Regions from separate parts of the Homo sapiens genome. Here all the other regions are linked to region 3. The links come from fine-mapping of genetic effects on gene expression. A gene starts in region 3. Each other region holds a variant in brackets. All regions are shown on one strand. Distances are from middle to middle. Region 1 has its middle 20 kb from the start of PTPRF. Region 2 has its middle 7.0 kb from the start of MPL. Region 3 holds the start of HYI (hydroxypyruvate isomerase (putative)). Region 4 overlaps CDC20 (cell division cycle 20).

The links. PIP is the estimated chance that this variant, and not a neighbour inherited with it, causes the effect.
Region 1: its variant is the best candidate, but not a certain one, in a credible set for the expression of HYI in whole blood (TOPMed, PIP 0.73).
Region 2: its variant is the best candidate, but not a certain one, in a credible set for the expression of HYI in whole blood (INTERVAL, PIP 0.75).
Region 4: its variant is the best candidate, but not a certain one, in a credible set for the expression of HYI in whole blood (TOPMed, PIP 0.61).

Annotation. Positions count from the first base shown.
Region 1 is chr1:43,508,138-43,512,721 of GRCh38, reverse strand. No RefSeq gene overlaps it. Among named protein-coding and RNA genes, the nearest start is that of PTPRF, 20 kb to the left of the region's middle. The variant T/C (reference allele first, on the strand shown) is at 1,926.
Region 2 is chr1:43,328,522-43,333,105 of GRCh38, reverse strand. No RefSeq gene overlaps it. Among named protein-coding and RNA genes, the nearest start is that of MPL, 7.0 kb to the left of the region's middle. The variant G/A (reference allele first, on the strand shown) is at 2,475.
Region 3 is chr1:43,452,333-43,456,342 of GRCh38, reverse strand. It overlaps HYI (hydroxypyruvate isomerase (putative)), which reads left to right and starts at 2,412. Exons shown (of 8, transcript NM_001190880.3): 1 at 2,412-2,748; 2 at 2,846-2,957. The coding sequence starts at 2,550. SZT2 (SZT2 subunit of KICSTOR complex) reads right to left here. Exons shown (of 72, transcript NM_001365999.1): 72 at 2,096-4,010. HYI-AS1 (HYI antisense RNA 1) reads right to left here and starts at 2,416. Exons shown (of 2, transcript NR_174945.1): 1 at 2,290-2,416. RefSeq lists silencers at 2,376-2,675, 2,786-2,845 and an enhancer at 3,636-4,010.
Region 4 is chr1:43,359,389-43,363,388 of GRCh38, reverse strand. It overlaps CDC20 (cell division cycle 20), which reads right to left. Exons shown (of 11, transcript NM_001255.3): 2 at 3,993-4,000; 3 at 3,751-3,899; 4 at 3,568-3,664; 5 at 3,292-3,420; 6 at 3,000-3,196; 7 at 2,796-2,890; 8 at 2,428-2,656; 9 at 2,144-2,269; 10 at 1,077-1,194; 11 at 186-438. The coding sequence ends at 260. Among named protein-coding and RNA genes, the nearest start is that of CDC20, 2.4 kb to the right of the region's middle. The variant G/T (reference allele first, on the strand shown) is at 1,870.

The DNA of each region.
Region 1 (4,584 bases), 56 kb before region 3:
CACCACTCCCCCTCAGAAGGTGCATTACTCAAGATTCTTTCTGTTGCACCTGAACAAGAAAGGACAATATATTGGTTGACATAACTCAAAAGCCCAGGGTGTGGAAGAAAGTTTAAATTGTGCATTGTGCTTTTAATGTGAGTCCGTTATAACCAGTATTTGTTTTTCTTGTATAACTTATGCAAGGGGGAAAAAAAAACACTTTACAAATACTTTTTTTCCCAACACCAAGAAACTATACCAGCCTTGTACTGCTGTTTGGTTTAAATAAAACAAGAGCACTGAAGTCATACTCAGTTCAGGTGAAATATTACAGGGTTGCTGGAAAGTTCAATTCCTTATAACGAACTTACAAGGAGTAAATACAATTTTCTACAATAAACAAGCATCATAGTCTCAGGGTTAAGGGTTGTAAAACAATAAACCATTGCAGTTAGAGTAGAATGTCAGAGGAGAGCTTCATGCATACAAACTGCTCAATATCATGATGACAAGGTATAAAATAAGAATAAATGTAATTTGAAGTAAGATCTTAACTCCATATGGTTAATAGTCTCTCTCTTTCTCTCTCTTTCTGCGTGTGTGTGTATATGTGTCTCTCTTTCTCTGTACTTTCTACCTTTCACCTTACTCCTAATTTTTGCCACACAAAAAATTATGTCCAGTCCAGTGCTTTGCATTCTCAAAAGCACTGTGTCAATAACTATTCATTCTCTGAAGATTCCTTATTTATTGGGATTGAAACCTCTGGTTTCAATTACAATGTTAAACAAAGATGAAATAATAGACTGGTGCTTATAATATTTTATTTTCTCAAAGCCTAGACTAGATACTCAGAAATGGCTGGGTTCAAGGACTCATATAACTGTCATCACGTTTCTCTCTGTTTCTGTGCCTGTCTCCATCCCCCTCCATCTCTCATCTTGGTTTATTCTCTGGTTCACATTGCTTGTTGGCCTCATTCTCTTCTATTGCAGAATTATTCCTTCACATGGACAGTGAAAATGGCTAAGGCAGCTCCATCTTCCACTCTCAGAGAATACAGGAGCATTTTCTTGATAGTTCTGGCAGAAAACTCCCAGGGAAGATTCTGATTGGCTCAGCTTGGTCATGTGCCCATCTGTGAACTAATCACTACGGCTAGAGATTGGAAATGGAGTAGTCTGATTTGCAGGCTCATGTCACACACCCACCTTTGGGTCTTGAGGATGAGGACTGAGTGGGGATCAGTGCCCCCTAAGCCACATGGAATGAGGGAGAGGTGGTTCCCTAAAGGAAAGAATGCCAGCAGACAATCTTGATCTAGGACAAACAGATGGAAGGTGGTGTTATATCAGGTCGATGGGGATAATAAAATTGTGATGTTGCTCATCAATGGCCATTTGGCAGTAAGGCCCAATACTCTATGAACAGACCAGCTTTTTTTTTTTTTTTTTTTTTTTTTTTTTTTTTTTTTTTTTGAGACTGAAATACTCAGGCTGAAATACTGAAATACAGTGGCTTGGTCATGGCTCACTGTAGCCTCGACCTCCCAGCCTCAAGTGATCCTTCCGCCTTAGCCTCCTGAGTAGCTGAGACTACAGGTGCATGCCACCATGCCCAGTTAATTTAAAAAAATTTTTTTTGTAGAGATGAGTTCTCAGTATGTTGCCCAGGCTGGTCTTAAACTCCTGGGCTCAAGTTATCCTCCTGCCTCGGCCTCCCAAAGTGCTGGGATCATAAGTGTTAGCCACCGCAGCAGGCCCAGACCAGCATTTTTAATGCTGATATGCGTTATCAGAATACATCTAAGGAATGTGAATTTGGAGCACCATTCAGGTGTGGGCTGTTGCACCCTTCACTTACCAGCACTGGATTGGGTATTGGGAGGCATGCTCAGGGGATGCTCCAGTGGCCTGTAATTCCAATGTTGTTTTCATGTGCTG[T/C]GAAGGTGCAGCTGCTATGTTACAAAGGTCATGTCCTCGTATCACCGAGACCATCTTTAATGAGGGAGCGTAGACCATTTGGAATGGCAAAAGGGTCTGGAAAAGAGGCTTGGCTGACAGCCTAGGGCAATGCTCAGAAGCTGTACTTATAGCCTTGAATTATATAACCCAAATCTACCTCTCTGCCCCAGATGAATGTGGTTGACTGGCAAAGAGCTTTGCTAGGAAGATGTCTAGCTGTGGTTGACAGTGAAAGGGAAGAAGTAGGTCTCTTGGCAGGAAGGGTACAAAGCTTCTCTTATGGCCCGAACGCCATTCTCTAGGAATGACAGAAATTGCCCTAATTATTAGGTATTGTACAGGATTCCTTGTGCCTCATACATGGTCTGTGGAAGCAGTTGGTACTGTTTCAAAAAGGCTACCCTGCGGCACTGAGTCCACGCATGATGATTTTAGGCCTTGGGGAGGGAACAGATGCTGGGGCTAATTAGGGCATGATTCCTCTGGCCCAAGATGGCAGAGGATGTCCAAATAAAATGTGACACCTGCGCCCCAGTGCAGTTCATAGAAAACACTGCCCACCAACCCGCCCTTCTGGAGATGACTCAGCATGGGATGCTTTTTGAAACTGGCACACCTTGATTGCTGTCTTCTGAAACTGGACAGTCAAGTCTGGAAGGCGTACTTCCTCCCATGCCCAGCTACCCCAGCAAAGATCAAGAAGCATACTCGGTGGCAGGAGGGTGTTGGGAAAAGTTCTTATCAGTTTTTGGATTTTCTGTTTTGAGATCATCTCATCAAAAAATGGTGAGATTCTAAGAATTATTTTACCCGCAGAACTTCAATTGGCAAGACTAGAATTGCTCCCCAAGGGGACTCCCCAGCCCAAGGGACTGAACAGAACATAATTAAATGTGTTTGGCATGCTCTATGCAGATCGGATAGGGCCTTGGGGCTGGTGTGAAGATGTTCTCATCCACACGCTGCCCCCGGAACGGTGCTGCTGACTGAGCACTCTCTATGGTGATAGTCGGGCTGTAGCCATGATCACTTGTTGATCTTGTTTTGGGCTTGGCAACAAGGAGACAGGGACAGTCTCATTCAGGATGCCACCAAGCTGAAGGATAAACTCCAAGTGGTTTACGGCTTGTCACTGCACAGAAAACAAGTTCAGAGCCTGTAGAGCAGACATCTGTTGTTTTGGCCTGCTCCAAAGCCATTTATCCTTCCCCCCGGTCTTTACTTGGGGAGTCACATCTCAGCCACTCTCAGTCTTTGCAGTTTAGGGGGAAGGGCAAGGGCACTAACAACAGCCTTTAGGCAATGAGAGATAAAGGCACATTCCTGATGATATTGTTCAAGCCAGGGGTTGGCAAACTTTTTCTATAAAGAGCCAATAGTAAATATGTTCAGCTTTGTGGGCCATGTGGTCTCTGTTGCAACTACTCAGCTCTGTGGTTGTAGGGTACAAGCAGCCATAGACAATATGTAAACAAATAAGCACGGCTGCATTCCAATAGAAAGTTATTTACAAAACAGGTGGCAGGCTAGATTTGGCTCACAGGCTGTCATTTACCAACTCTTTGTTTAAGCACCTGGATCCAGCTGAGCCTGAAGCTAACTGCCTCTGTGATTTTTCAGTGAATGAACCAGCAAATCCCCCTTTTTCCCTGTAGTAATTTGAGCTGGTGTTCTGTTATTGCCACTGAAAGATTTCTTGCAATTTATCCAGGTGTAGAGCCAGGTTTGCAGACTGGAGGTTGAGTTTCAAAATGCGTTTGGTGGCCCCAGATAGGCAGAAAATAGCTTAGCAATTGAGAAAATTCCATATCTGAGAGGGGATGGGGCAGGACTCCTGACAGTTTCTAACATGCAGCCAGAGGCCAGGGCTGTTAAGGTGGTATGTCCAAACAGCAAGCCACCCAAGAGAGACCTGGAAGAGTGGGAATCCACCTGTCTGAGGACACTGACTATACCTCCCATGACAAGCTGAACAGGAAATGCCCCAGAGAGGCCAAAGAGAAGCCAGCCTTCTTTTTTGATGAGGCGTGAGTAGGAGGAGATGGATGGTGAGGAGGCGGATGGAGAGACAAAGTTGACCGGTGACCCTTTGAAATGAAAACCCAGTGACACCTTGACCCCAAGTTGGGGCGAGACACCCATACATCTGTGGGGATGTGGGAAGCCCTCTCCACCACACTTTCTTTTTTTGAGCTGGAGTCTTGCTCCATCACCCAGGCTGGAGTGCAGTGGGGTGATCTCAGTTCACTATAACTTCTACTGCCCAGGTGGGGAGATGAACCAAGGCCTCCTAGGGGGCCTCTGGCTAAGGATGCCCAGGTTTTACAACCCAAATCAGAGTTGCGATTCTTGTGCCTCAGCGTCCTGAGTAGCTGGGACCACAGGCGTGTGCCACCATGCCTGGCTAATTTTTGTGTTTTTAGTACAGACAGAGTTTCTGCCATGTTATCCAGCCTGGTCTCGAACTCCTGACCTCAAGTGATCCTCTGCTTTGGCCTCCCAAAGTCTCTCCACCACACTGAATCTGGAGACAGCAAAATATAATGAAGAGGAGAAGAGGAGCATCAAAGGACCAGTGATTCCCTCCTAGCCTGAGTGGTGGGTGGAGAGCTTGGTGGTGAAGCAGAAGGGCATGAGC
Region 2 (4,584 bases), 120 kb after region 3:
TGTAATCCCAGCTACTCGGGAGGCTGAGGCAGGAGCATTGCTTAAATCCGGGAGGTGGAGGTTGCGGTGAGCCGAGTTTGTGCCATTGCACTCCAGCCTGGGCAACAGGAGTGAAACTCCATCTCTAAATAAATAAATAAATAAATAAATAAATAAATAAATAAATATAATGGTTCCGTTTATACACTTAGCAGCGTGTTAGGGTGCTGTATTTCCCCCACATCTTTGTCAACTTTTTTTGTTTGTTTTTTGTTTTTGATTTGACAGAGTCTTAACTCTGTCGCCCAGGCAGGAGTGCAGTGGTGCGATCTCAGCTCACTGCAACCTCTGCCTCCCAGGTTCAAACGATTCTCCTGCCTCAGCCTCCTGAGTAGCTGGGATTACAGGCGTGCACCACCATGCCCAGCTAATTTTTGTATTTTTAGTAGAGACGGGGTTTCAACATGTTGGCCAGGCTGGTCTCGAACTCCTGACCTCTGGCGATCCTCCCGCCTTGGCCTCTCAAAGTATGGGGATTACAGGCATGAGCCACTGCACCCGGCCAGTCAACGTTAAGTTTTAAGTTTGCCATTCTGATAGTTGACAAATGGTATATCCTTACTCAGTGCTTTTTCTGAGGTTCAAATGTGCTTTTATTTATTTTCTTCCTGCTGGAAATCTTTCTGCAGCTCCACAAGATGAGGAAGGCTCATCCCTCAGTGCTGCAGCACAAGACCCCCATTGCTGGAATCTCCCCCTCAGGATGCTCCATTCACTAGTCCCCATACCCAATCCCCTTTCTAGGCACAGGGCCTTGTTCCCATTGCTTCCCCAGGCACAGACCCTCCCCACTTAGCCTGTTGGAACTTCCTTTGTGATTCTGCCTGCCCCTAAGTCACTATTTCTTGGGAGTCTTTTCTTATCCCCCCAACTATATGCAACTGGGGGAAAAGGCTAATTAAAAAAGCGAAATACAATTTCACATTCCTTTTAGAGGCCCTGTAGCTCTTTTGTGATCAGAAACAAACTGGATGGGCCTTTGGGCATGGCCTTGATAGGAAGCATTAGAGAGCTGAGTTTGGGGGAAATGAAATGGATGGGAATTTTAGAATGTCCTGTGGTAACTCCAGAGAAAACGGAGGAGGGCCGGTAAGTGAAAGATGGCCACCTGAGGAGAAGAAAGGTCAACCAGTGAGAAATTCCAGGTAGGACTGTCTGAGGAGAATTCCAGAATGATGATGCCAAATCCTCAGTATGCTCCCTATTCTGTGAGTGCTTGGCTTCCCTACAGCATGCCCAGACATCCAGTAAAGTGTACTGTACACAAAACCCTCCATTCATGGTGCTTTCGGAACAAAGGAAAAGAGGTAACGACACCTGTCGGATGGAAACCCTTGGAGAGTCCTGGTAGAAACACAGGAAGGCATGTACCTCCCAAAGGATGTGGAATAGGAACTGAGCCATAATAATTAGACACAAATCAAAAGGGTGACCCCAAAGGGCACCCCTTGAAGTCATTTGGGTGCACACACATAACCTTTCTTCCTTTGAGTTCCCGCAGAAACTTGAGCCTCTGTTGGGGGGTTCTTATGTATAAAATGACATGCTGTGCCCCCACTCTAGCTACATAAGAACTGAATCCCCAAGTAGGGACTGTCATTTTTCTTTTTCTCCCCGCCGAGATGGAGTCTTGCTCTGTTGCCCAGGCTGGAGTGCGATGGCGCAATCTTGGCTCACCGCAACCTCCGCCTCCTGGGTTCAAGCAGTTCTCCTGCCTCAGCCTCCAGAGTAGCTGGGATGACAGGCAGGCACCACCACGCCTGGCTAATTTTTGTATTTTTAGTAGAGACGAGGTTTCACTATGTTGGCCAGGCTGATCTTGAACTCTTGACCTCGTGATCCGCCCACCTCGGCCTCCCAAAGTGCTGGGATTACAGGCATGAGCCACCGCATCCAGCCCGGGGACTGCCATCTTAAGGCCCTCCTCCTGGGGTAGGCGCTGGGTGGGAGTGGGCCTGCCCCCTCCTCCCTAACTCCCTCTCTTGCCAGGATCCTGCCACCTAGCAGTGAGGAGCACTTGCTGTTTGCCAGCACTGTGGGAATGCATTGTCTCATTTCATCATACAACCACCCTGTTAGGTGCCTTTGTCCTTACTTCACAGAAGAGAAAGCTGAGGCTTAGAAGGAGTCAGTGAGTTCAAAGTCACTATCAAAGGATGGAGCTGAGATTTGGATTCAGGTCTGTTTGACTCTAAAGCCTGTTCTTTTAACTACTGCACAGATACCTCTGACTAGGAGCATGTTATGGCTGTTTCCTCCATTTTATTCACTCATTTAACATTATAAGCCTGGCACAGGGCATGGTGTGAGTCTTGAGCTGGATGAGTCTGAGTTCAAAACAGGCATCTGGAGAGGTTTAACTCAAGTAAATGGAAACAGGACCAGTAGTTGCCCAGTAGTAACCCCAAGGGAGAGAGCTGCAGAGAACCCAGTTT[G/A]GTCAGCCCTCTGTCCTCTGCTCTTCATGAGACATCCTGGCTCCTGAGTGGTCCTTAAGCTGCTGGGTCTCTCCCTGACCCCAGAATCCAAGGCCCGCTGAGGAAATACAAGGACAGCCCCACTGCAGCCAGCTTCTGGTTTGCCTGCCCTGCCCTAGGAGAGGGCCTTGGGTGAGATAAGAGGATGCACAGCCCCTGGGAGGAGCCTGAGCTGCCTGCAGGAAATCACCCCTTCCCTGGGGGCGGGAGGGGAATGAATGACTCAGGGCCAACTGGTGGGAGTTCTGTTTTTGTGGCCAGGACGGGTTGTAGGGAGGTTCCTCGGATGAAGTACTCACTGGGTTCGCCTTTCCCAGCTGCCTCCTAATGAGGCTTTTCCTCTGGCCTTTTCCATTCTATCCCTGGAAACAAGTTTGTGCTGCTGGGCTGGTCTTTTGCTCCAAGCCCCACCCAACCCAGGCCATCTCCTGTGAGAATATGGCTGTTGAGTGAAGCTGTGAGAACTGAGGCTGGAACAGGTGCAGGCAGACGAGGCTGAGCATTTAGGACTGTGCTCTGGACCTGCAGTTTGCTGACTTGCTTGTATTGGGGTTCTGGGTCTTCAGTGCTACAGTGGGAATGGGGAGACCTTCTGTTGGGGCAGGATATCTTTGGGGCCCACAACCTGGAATGTGGTGTGTGATTGATATATTTGTGGTGAATTTGGAAGTGTACTATACCCAAATCTGGCCCTTTCTACTGCCAGAGAAGCGGCATAGTACTGTGGCTAAGAGAGGGACTCTGGAGCCAGAATATCCAGGTTTAAATGTCAGCTCTTGGCCAGGTGCAGTGGCTCATGCCTGTAATCCCAGGACTTTTAGAGGCTCAAGGCAGGAGGATCGCTTGAGCCCAGGAGTTTGAGACCAGCCTGGGTAACATAGGGAGACCCTCTCTCTACAAAAAAAATTAAAAAAATTAGCTGAGCATGGTGGTGCATGCCTGTAGTCCCATCTACTTGGGAGGCTGAGACAGGAGGATTGCTTGAGCCCAGGAGGTTGAGGCTGCAGTGAGCTATGATCGAATCACTGCACTCCAGCCTGGGAGACCAAGCGAGATCCTGTCTCAAAACAAGAACAACAGATTCAGCTCTGCCTCTTACTAGCTATCAGATTTTAGCCAAGTTACTAGCCTCTCTGGTCCTGTTCTCTGTAAAATGACAATAATAATGGTACCTACTAATAGGATTGTTGAAGACTGAATGAATTAATACATGCAAAATGCTTGGAATGGTGCCGGGTAATTAAGTACTATGTAAATATTAGCTGTTTTTATTCTTTTAGTGACTGGTATCACCACCCACCCATCATATGAACAGAAGCTTGGCAGTGATCCTAGACTCTTCTTTCAGTCCCGTATTCAACCCCTGTCTATTCTTTCTTCAGTTATTTCTTCCAGTTTGCTACCACCACACCATCATTTCACCCACACTACTATATATAGTGGTCTTTCACTGATCTCCTTGCCTTCACTTAAAAAAAATACCCGGCTTGGCCAGGCGCGGTGGCTCATACCTGTAATCCCAGCACTTTGGGAGGCCGAGGTGGGCAGATCACGAGGTCAGGAGATCAAGACCATCCTAGCTAACACGGTGAAACCCTGTCTCTACTAAAAAAAATAAAAATAAAAAATTAGCCGGGCGTGGTGGTGGGCGCCTGAAGTCCCAGCTACTTGGGAGGCTGAGGCAGAATGGTGTGAACCCAGGAGGCAGAGCTTGCAGTGAGCCAAGATCACGCCACTGCACTCACTCCAGCCTGGGTGACAAAGCAAGACTCCATCTCAAAAAAACAAATGAACAAACAGACAAAAAACAACCCAGCTTTATTGAAATATAATTCACACACCATACAACTCACCCATGTAAAGTGTACAAATCAGTGGTTTTTAGTATATTCACAGATATGTGCAACCACAGTCAAATTTAGATCATTTTTATCACCTCAAAAAGAAATCCTGTACCTTTTACACTCATCCTCATATCTCCCCAACTTCCTTCTAGTCCTAAGCAACCACTAATCTACTTTCTACCTCTATAGATTTGCCTAGTATGGAAATTTCATATAAATGGAATATG
Region 3 (4,010 bases):
TAGGCATATTAGCTTTAAGAGACAATGCCAAATTGTTTTCCAAGGAGGTTATAGTGATTTACACTCCTGTTGGCAGTTGTTCCAAATCCTATCCAATATTTGATAATGTGTTTTTTATTTTTGCCAATGTGGAAGGCATAAAATAGAATTTCATTGAGGTTTTGATTTGCATTTCACATGAGTTGTAATATGTTTTACTGCATTGCCAAATGTTATCCAATGATCAAATGAGACTCTGAACTCTGTACTAAAGTTTTTGCCATTATCCATGCAACTATTTACAAGTTGTTGTTACTTTAAAATCACACCTGTGCAAATTATTTGGTTAAAAGTCAAATACGTACCTGTGAAGTGTGCACAATAAAGCAAAAAAAAAAGGCAAATGCAAAGAATCAAAACTTGTGATAACTTAGTGTCATGCCTGTGTTGCAAGGTGGGATAAGACATAGTCAAAGGTGAATAAAGCAAATAATTTTCATGGACATTGCACTCCTTATATATTTATTTGAGCATATTATGTGAAGGTGGAAGGTGTTGTAAGGGAATTAAGGGGAAAGTGAGTCACCTATGTCTAGTTTATGTATAATCTTTACTGCCCTAAGGCATGTCCAAGGAAAAAAGGGGTGGACAATCGGGAGTTGGACACATTTTGTTTCTGACGCAGAGCTCAGCAGCTGTCAACATCATAAATAGAATTTGCATACTCGGAGATCAACAGTGAGGTGGTAATAAAGGAATTACTTCCTCTAGATGTTACTCTTTGTTGTCAATTTTGGATTGCAAACACACTAAAGTTGGGACTGATTACAATGTTAAGCTTAGTGAGGTCTTGATTGGACGAGAAACACGTTCCAAGACAAGGCAAAGGTCCTAGTGTAAAACCAGCTGCAAAAGAGCATGAAATCAGGTGATCAGTGTCAGCTGGCAGCAGTCTGTTCTTGGAGGCAGAGCTGAAGAAACAGAACCTGCCAAGAATTTGGGTTCACCACGGGATCAGGCTGGATCCCTGGTGTCTGAGCTGGCCTCATTTGAGATGGAGTTGAGTGTTGACAGAACAATCAGTGGGAGCTGGGTGTTCCTAATGTTGCACTTTAAGCTTCTCTGTCAAAGTTAGCACAGACGATAGATCAAGATGACGTTTACTCATGAATTGTTGGGATATAAATTTATATTTTTCAAAGGAAATTTAAGATATCAACAACTTAAATATGTTCCTATTTTTGACCATGTAATTCTACCCATAAGAACCTGCCCAATCAGTTGGGTTATTGTAGATGAAAGTAAAATCATTCAAATTATCTCAAGAAACATTAAGAGGCTATACAGAGACAGAAACCCAGGAAAGTCTAAGCATCCCAGCCTTAAGTGCACAGACCTGGGGGCAGCTATGGGTTTGGGCACCCTTGGGATGACATGGGTTTCTCAGGGTGCTACCTCTATTCACAGGACTTGGTTCCCCTCCTTTCCGCTCTAGCTTTTCTTTACCATAGGACTGTCTTATTTCGTTTCTACAGCCCAGTCACCTTCTGGCAACACCACCTGTTGACTCTCAGCATTTCCTTGTTTGAACTCTTGATTGGTTAAATTACCTTTCCAAACGACGCAAGTAAGAGGTTTTTGGCCAGTCTATGGATTGGCTGCCCTGGGATCAGATGACCTCCCTGGTCCAATCAGCTGAGGCTAAGGCTAAAAAGGGACAGCTCACCCATAGCTGCTCCAATGGGGCGGTTTCCCTTGCAAAAGACTAGCGGCGTGAACGGGCAAACACTGTGATGGACATCTCTAGAAAAAGACTCGGAAAAGAGTCAGAGATAGGGACTAAGAAGTGCCTGAAAGTGCGCTTGCAGCGCGCGTGCACACACACGATATCCAACCACAAAGTACAATAATGACTTGCTGCTTAGGTGTGCGACAATGAGCAGCGAAGGCACTGACTTTGAAGGCTATTGGAAAACACGAGGAAATGCTCACAAAATAATATTCCATGAAAAAGAGCTATAAAACAGCATATACCGAATGATCAGAATTTCCAAAGAAAAAAATTGCATATTTTAAAATTTGGACGGGAAAGCCAACAGGCTAGTGGTGTGATAACTGGCGGTATAAAAGTGCTTCTTTATTTGGTCATACAGCTTTCAAATGTTGCTTAACGAACAGATAGCATTTTTATAATCAGAGGAAAGACTCAGTATTAAAGTGCGCGTCCCATCATTGCAACCGGGCCCTCGGGCAGCCAGCTCTCTCTTGCTTCGCGTCCGGCTCTCAGGCCCTGGAGCTCGGCCTCCCTACCTTCTCCAGGCGCGGGTCCTGCTCCTTTTCCGGCCGCCCTCGCTCCGCCCCTTCGCCTCTCCCCGTGATCCCTCTCTCGCTAACCGTAGGCGCTTTTCGTGAAGGCCCGGGTTTTTACAGCACTTCGCTTTTCTAACCACGAACAGTGCTCGTTCGTTCGCAGGGCCAGCAAGGAGAGCCCCGCCCCCGCCCGCCGCCCGCCGCCCGCCGCCCGCCGCCTTTGGATCCCGCGGACTCCGCCCGGCCCGGCCTCCCCAGGCATGGCGCCGCTGCGCTTCTCCGCCAATCTGTCCTGGCTATTCCCCGAGCTCTCCGGCCTCCCCGCGCGGGTGCGGGCCGCGGGCAGCTCGGGCTTCGAGGCCGTCGAGGTGGCCTGGCCGTACGCGGAGACGCCTGAGGCGCTGGCGCGCGCCGCGCGAGAAGCGGGGCTGCGGCTTGTACTGATCAACACGCCCCCGGGTGCGTCGCGGGCCGGGAGGGCTGGGAGGGCTGGGGGGTGCCGGGGCGCGGGCAGGGGAGTGTCCGAGCCGGGGGCTGAGGCCCGTTCTCTCTGCAGGAGACCAAGAGAAGGGGGAAATGGGGCTGGGGGCCGTCCCCGGGAGACAGGCGGCCTTCCGAGAGGGACTGGAGCAGGCCGTGCGGTATGCCAAAGCCCTGGGCTGTCCCAGGTACCCCGCTCCACCCCACCCCCACCCCTGTGACCCATGACCCTGATGCAGGTTCAGGGAGTCGAGGACGCCAGATCTGAGACGCTCAGAAGTCTGAGCCCACTGGTTTATCTCTGCCTCTGCGGTCCTGGTCCTTTGTAAATTGCCTTTTGTATTTTATCTGTCTTATGCCACTCTGTTTGCCACTCTTTCATGCTCACCCCATGCTGGGATCCCATGCTGGGAGCTCAGTCTGCCTAGGCAGATAGGAGAGTAAATATATACAGTGATGCATTTGAGGACAGGCCTATTCCAGGAAGCTGTGGGAGCAGGGTAGGCACCTAACCCTGTCTGGATCAGAGAAAGCTGCTTACAGGTAGTGATGCTTGGACTGTCTTCAAGGAGTGGGCATTGCTTGATGGGCAGGAAGTTGAGTGTTCCTTGCAAGGGTGCTGTGGCAAGAGGAGGCCTGGTGTATTTGGCAGCGTTCCTGAGGCTGGACATGTATGTAGCCTGTTGGGATGGGGAGGCCTGGAATGTCTGCTTGGAGCTGGATGTGGCTAAGATCAGGGGATGATGGGAGGAGGTGGACGGCTCAAAGTGGGGCTGATTCAAATGTCAAATCCTGCAGAGGCCAAACAGGCTCAGAAGGAACTGGCAAGAGGGGATCACTACTGGTCAATGGTGGGGGCAGAAAACAGATGGGAAAAGGCTAAGTAGATGCGAGGAGAGGAAGTAGAGACAGCAGCATGGAATACCTGAGAAGGGCAAGCAAAGGTCAGGACAATTTTTAAAGGTGAGAATTTAGCAGGTTACAGGTTGCGGAGAAGGACCGAGGGAAGGAAAGGTTTTGGAAAGTACTGGAGGCAGGAGGCGGTGGGTGGACACTGAGATGTCTGGGAAAGGGCTTGCCCCTCAGCCATCACTGAAGTGTCTCTGAAAGTGCTGGGATACCTGGGCATCGTGACCCAGGTGCCATGGACTGGAGACCTGGGGAGACGGACGAGGGCTGGCACAGTCAGGGAATCCTGGAAGAGGTGCAGAGAGAGCCAAGGGAGGCAAGGCCTCCAGTCC
Region 4 (4,000 bases), 93 kb after region 3:
GTATACGTATGTGAACAGAGGAGGTGGGGGAACACAACACGCTTAGCCCTGTCCACAAACAAGAGGGATGGATGGTCCAGGCTCCCACAGGACATATCTAGCTCTCTGATCCCAGTAGAGTAGAGCCCCTAGGAAGGCTGCTGGGACATAGGTCATGAAAGAAGAAAGGCATTAGCTGAAACAGATTTAAAAAAAAAACATGAAGGGAGACATGACTTTATTAGAAAAATAAAAAACAACTGAGGTGATGGGTTGGTCTTCAGCGGATGCCTTGGTGGATGAGGCTGCTTTTGGCTGCACTGGCCTTCTCCCGCTCCCGCCGCCGCGCAGGGTCCAACTCAAAACAGCGCCATAGCCTCAGGGTCTCATCTGCTGCTGCGGATGCCACTGTGGCCCCATCTGGGCTCATGGTCAGACTCAGGACCCGGGATGTGTGACCTGGAGCAAATGAGAACAGTACATACGAATGCTGATGCAGCCATAGCCATAAAGGAGGCACTGGGCCACCCACCTACCTTTTTGTTTTTTTTGAGACTTGCTCTGTCACCCAGGCTGGAGTGCAGTGGCGCAATCTTGGCTCACTGCAAGCTCCGCCTCCTGGGTTCATGCCATTTTCCTGCCTCAGCCTCCCGAGTAGCTGGGACTACAGGTGCTTGCCACCACGCCTGGCTAATTTTTTGTGTTTTTTAGTAGAGACAGGGCTTCACCATGTTAGCCAGGATTGTCTCTATCTCCTGACCTCATGATCTGCCCGCCTCAGCCTCCCAAAGTGCTGGGATTACAGGCGTGAGCCACCGTGCCTGGCCTCCTCCCTTTTTTTTCAATGGTGTTACTGAGATATAATTCACACACCATAAAATGCATCCTTTTAAAGTGTACAGTTTAGTGATTTTTAGTATATTCACAAAATTGTACAACTGTTAAAACTAATTCTAAGACATTTTCAACATTTCCCATTACCCTCTCTCAGCCCCTGGCAACCATTAATGTGTTTTTTCTCTGGATTTGCTTATTCTGGACATTTCAGTCATACATTATGTGGCCTTTTATGTCCGGCTTTTCACCTAGCCACTTACCTTTGAGTTCAGCCACCTTGGCCATGGTTGGGTACTTCCAAATAACTAGCTGGTTCTGTGCAAAGCCATGGCCTGAGATGAGCTCCTTGTAATGGGGAGACCAGAGGATGGAGCACACCTGTGGAGAGGAGCTGGTGTGGGCATGACATATAGCCAAGGCTACTTAAATCAGAACTGAGCCCATTCTAGTGTTAGGCACCCTGCCACATGCTCCAGACTCAGAGTTGAATGATCATAGTCCATACAAAAGTTCCTTGAGAGGCAAATTATAGACACTCGCTGATGTAACCATTTTTTACCTTTACAGTGGGTTTACTGGGACTTAAATCAGGGAGCATCTGTATTATCCATTGGATAGATGAGGAATCAATCAGAAGGAAGTTCAATAGGTTGCCAAAGGTCACATTCAAGTTTAGTAGATGACAGAGCCAGAATTTTAACTTGGGCCATCTGGCTCTAGAGTCCATATCTACAGTGAAGGCTGAATGTGGGGGGAGTGGAAGGAGAGAGCCTCAAGTATCTTTCTAATGGATTTGGATTATATGCCATAAGTGATGGGAAGCCATCACAGGTTTAAGGACAGTACAGTATAACAGACCACAGCATGGAGGATGCATTGCAGGAGATAACAAAGAATGCTTGACACCAGTGAGGAAGCCATTGTAGTGGGCCTCCACTTGGAAGGATGAGGCTGAGGGGAGGGGACAGATGTCAATGATATTTTGAGGTAAAACTGATAGATCCTGGTGAGGAGGATGAAAAATTCTAGGAGGTTTCTCAGATTTCTGAGCAG[G/T]TTCTGCCATTCCAAAGCAATGTGAGACAGGAAGGAACACATTTCAGGGAGGCAAGGGGAAGTGACAAGGTTAATTTGGGACAGATCAAGGTGGTGGTGCCTATAGGACATAGGATTGGAGATAGCCACAGACTGTTGGAAATGAAGCTCATGAGTGAGAGCTGAGTTAGAAGTTTGGGAATCACCAGGGCATAGAGTTGGTGAAGCCATTGGAGTGAATGTAGTTGCCCGGTAAGAATGCATGTGGGAGAGGCAGGAACAGGCAAAAGATTACCTGGGAATGGGCATCCACGGCACTCAGACAGGCCCCAGAGCACACATTCCAGATGCGAATGTGTCGATCACTGGTGCCCCCTCCTGTTGCCAGGACATTGGACTGCCAGGGACACCATGCTACGGCCTAGATGGAATAAAGGTGGGGTCAGCAGGTACTAGAGCCAGACAAGGAGCTCTAGGGGTCACAGATTAACCCAGTCCAATCCTACCATCCCTTCTCCCCTTAACAGTCCCCAGATTATAGGTGAGGGTCTGCAGAGGCTTCAGCCCAACCCTACTCACCTTGACAGCCCCTTGATGCTGGGTGAATGTCTGCAGAGGAACCCAGCCACCCTCTCCAGGAGCACTAGGCCACACATTGACCAAGTTATCATTACCACCACTGGCCAAATGTCGTCCATCTGGGGCCCAGCGCAGCCCACACACTTCCTGGCTGTGGCCACTCAGTGTGGCCACATGGTGTTCTGCTACCCGAACATCATGGTGGTGGATGTGGCCAGAACGTGAACCACTGGAGGAGGAAAGAAGGGAATCAGGTTCTGTGGCAGCACCAAATGCAAGCAAGCCAGAGCTGGTTCAGTTCAGGGGTGTACAGTCAAGGGGAGGGTGGGCAAATATCAGACTACCATAGACCAACAAAAACCACTGACCTGGACAGGATATAGCTGTTCCAGCTTAGGGAGCCCACTCGGGCAGAGTGACTGGTCATATTTCGAAGCCGTTTCTGCTGCTGCACATCCCATAGCTAGAGAGAGAAGCCCACTAGGATCAGAGATTGGGACTTGGCATTAATATCCTCCAGCTGTGCAAGCCCATTGGGACTGGTGAGAATGACAGCACTGGACACGTCTCACCTGCACCTCAGCACTGCTGGTGCCCACAGCCAAGTAGTTGCCCTCTTTGATCCAGGCCACAGAGGATATATATTCCCCAGGCTGCTCCATTTGCAAAAGCTGCAGGATGTCACCAGAGCTTGCACTCCACAGGTACACACTGTTGTCCAGTGCCACGGCCAGTACATTCCCAGAACTCCAATCCACAAGGTTCAGGTCTGTCAGAGGTGGAGAGAAGAGCATGAGCTTCCTTGTTTGTGTGGTCCCAGGCCCTCTTTCTCCATGCATGAGGCGAGGATAAGGATGCACTTACAATAGTCATTTCGGATTTCAGGCGCATCCAGGATACGGTCTGGCAGGGAAGGAATGTAACGGCAGGTCTTCCGGCTGGAGCCAGGAGTGGCCTTTTGGCTGTAGAGTACTTTCAGTCTGTTCTGATAACCTGTGGCAACGGAGTGAGTCTAGACGCTGGGAAAATCAACACCTCCCTTGCCCTCAATCTTAGATAGGAAGAGGAGACAGATATCTGTGCTCAGCCCTGGAGATGAACTGACACCTCCCTCCAGGAACCAGGAACTTCGGGTCTTACCCTCTGGCGCATTTTGTGGTTTTCCACTGAGCCGAAGGATCTTGGCTTCCTCTACATCAAAACCGTTCAGGTTCAAAGCCCAGGCTTTCTGATGTTCCTGGCATAAAGGGTAGTGAAGGAGCAAGATGGTATTATCCAAAGAACAGTCAGGTCCCGTGCCTTAAGCCCCTCTGGGACACATACCTTCTTGGTGGGCGTCTGGCTGTTTTCAGGCTGGTTCTCCTTGCTCAGGAGGAAGCTGGCCACCTCCATCTGGGCAGCACTGCGATGGGGGATATAGCGGTCACCGCCAGGTTTGCTAGGAGTGGTCTGAACCTTGGAACTGGATTTGCCTGGGGCGGAGAAAGAGAAGACAGTCTGACCAGGCTCCCCAGGGAGAAAGTATGAAGGCTGCTCTCACTCAGTTCCTTTGGCACCTCACTGACCAGGAGTT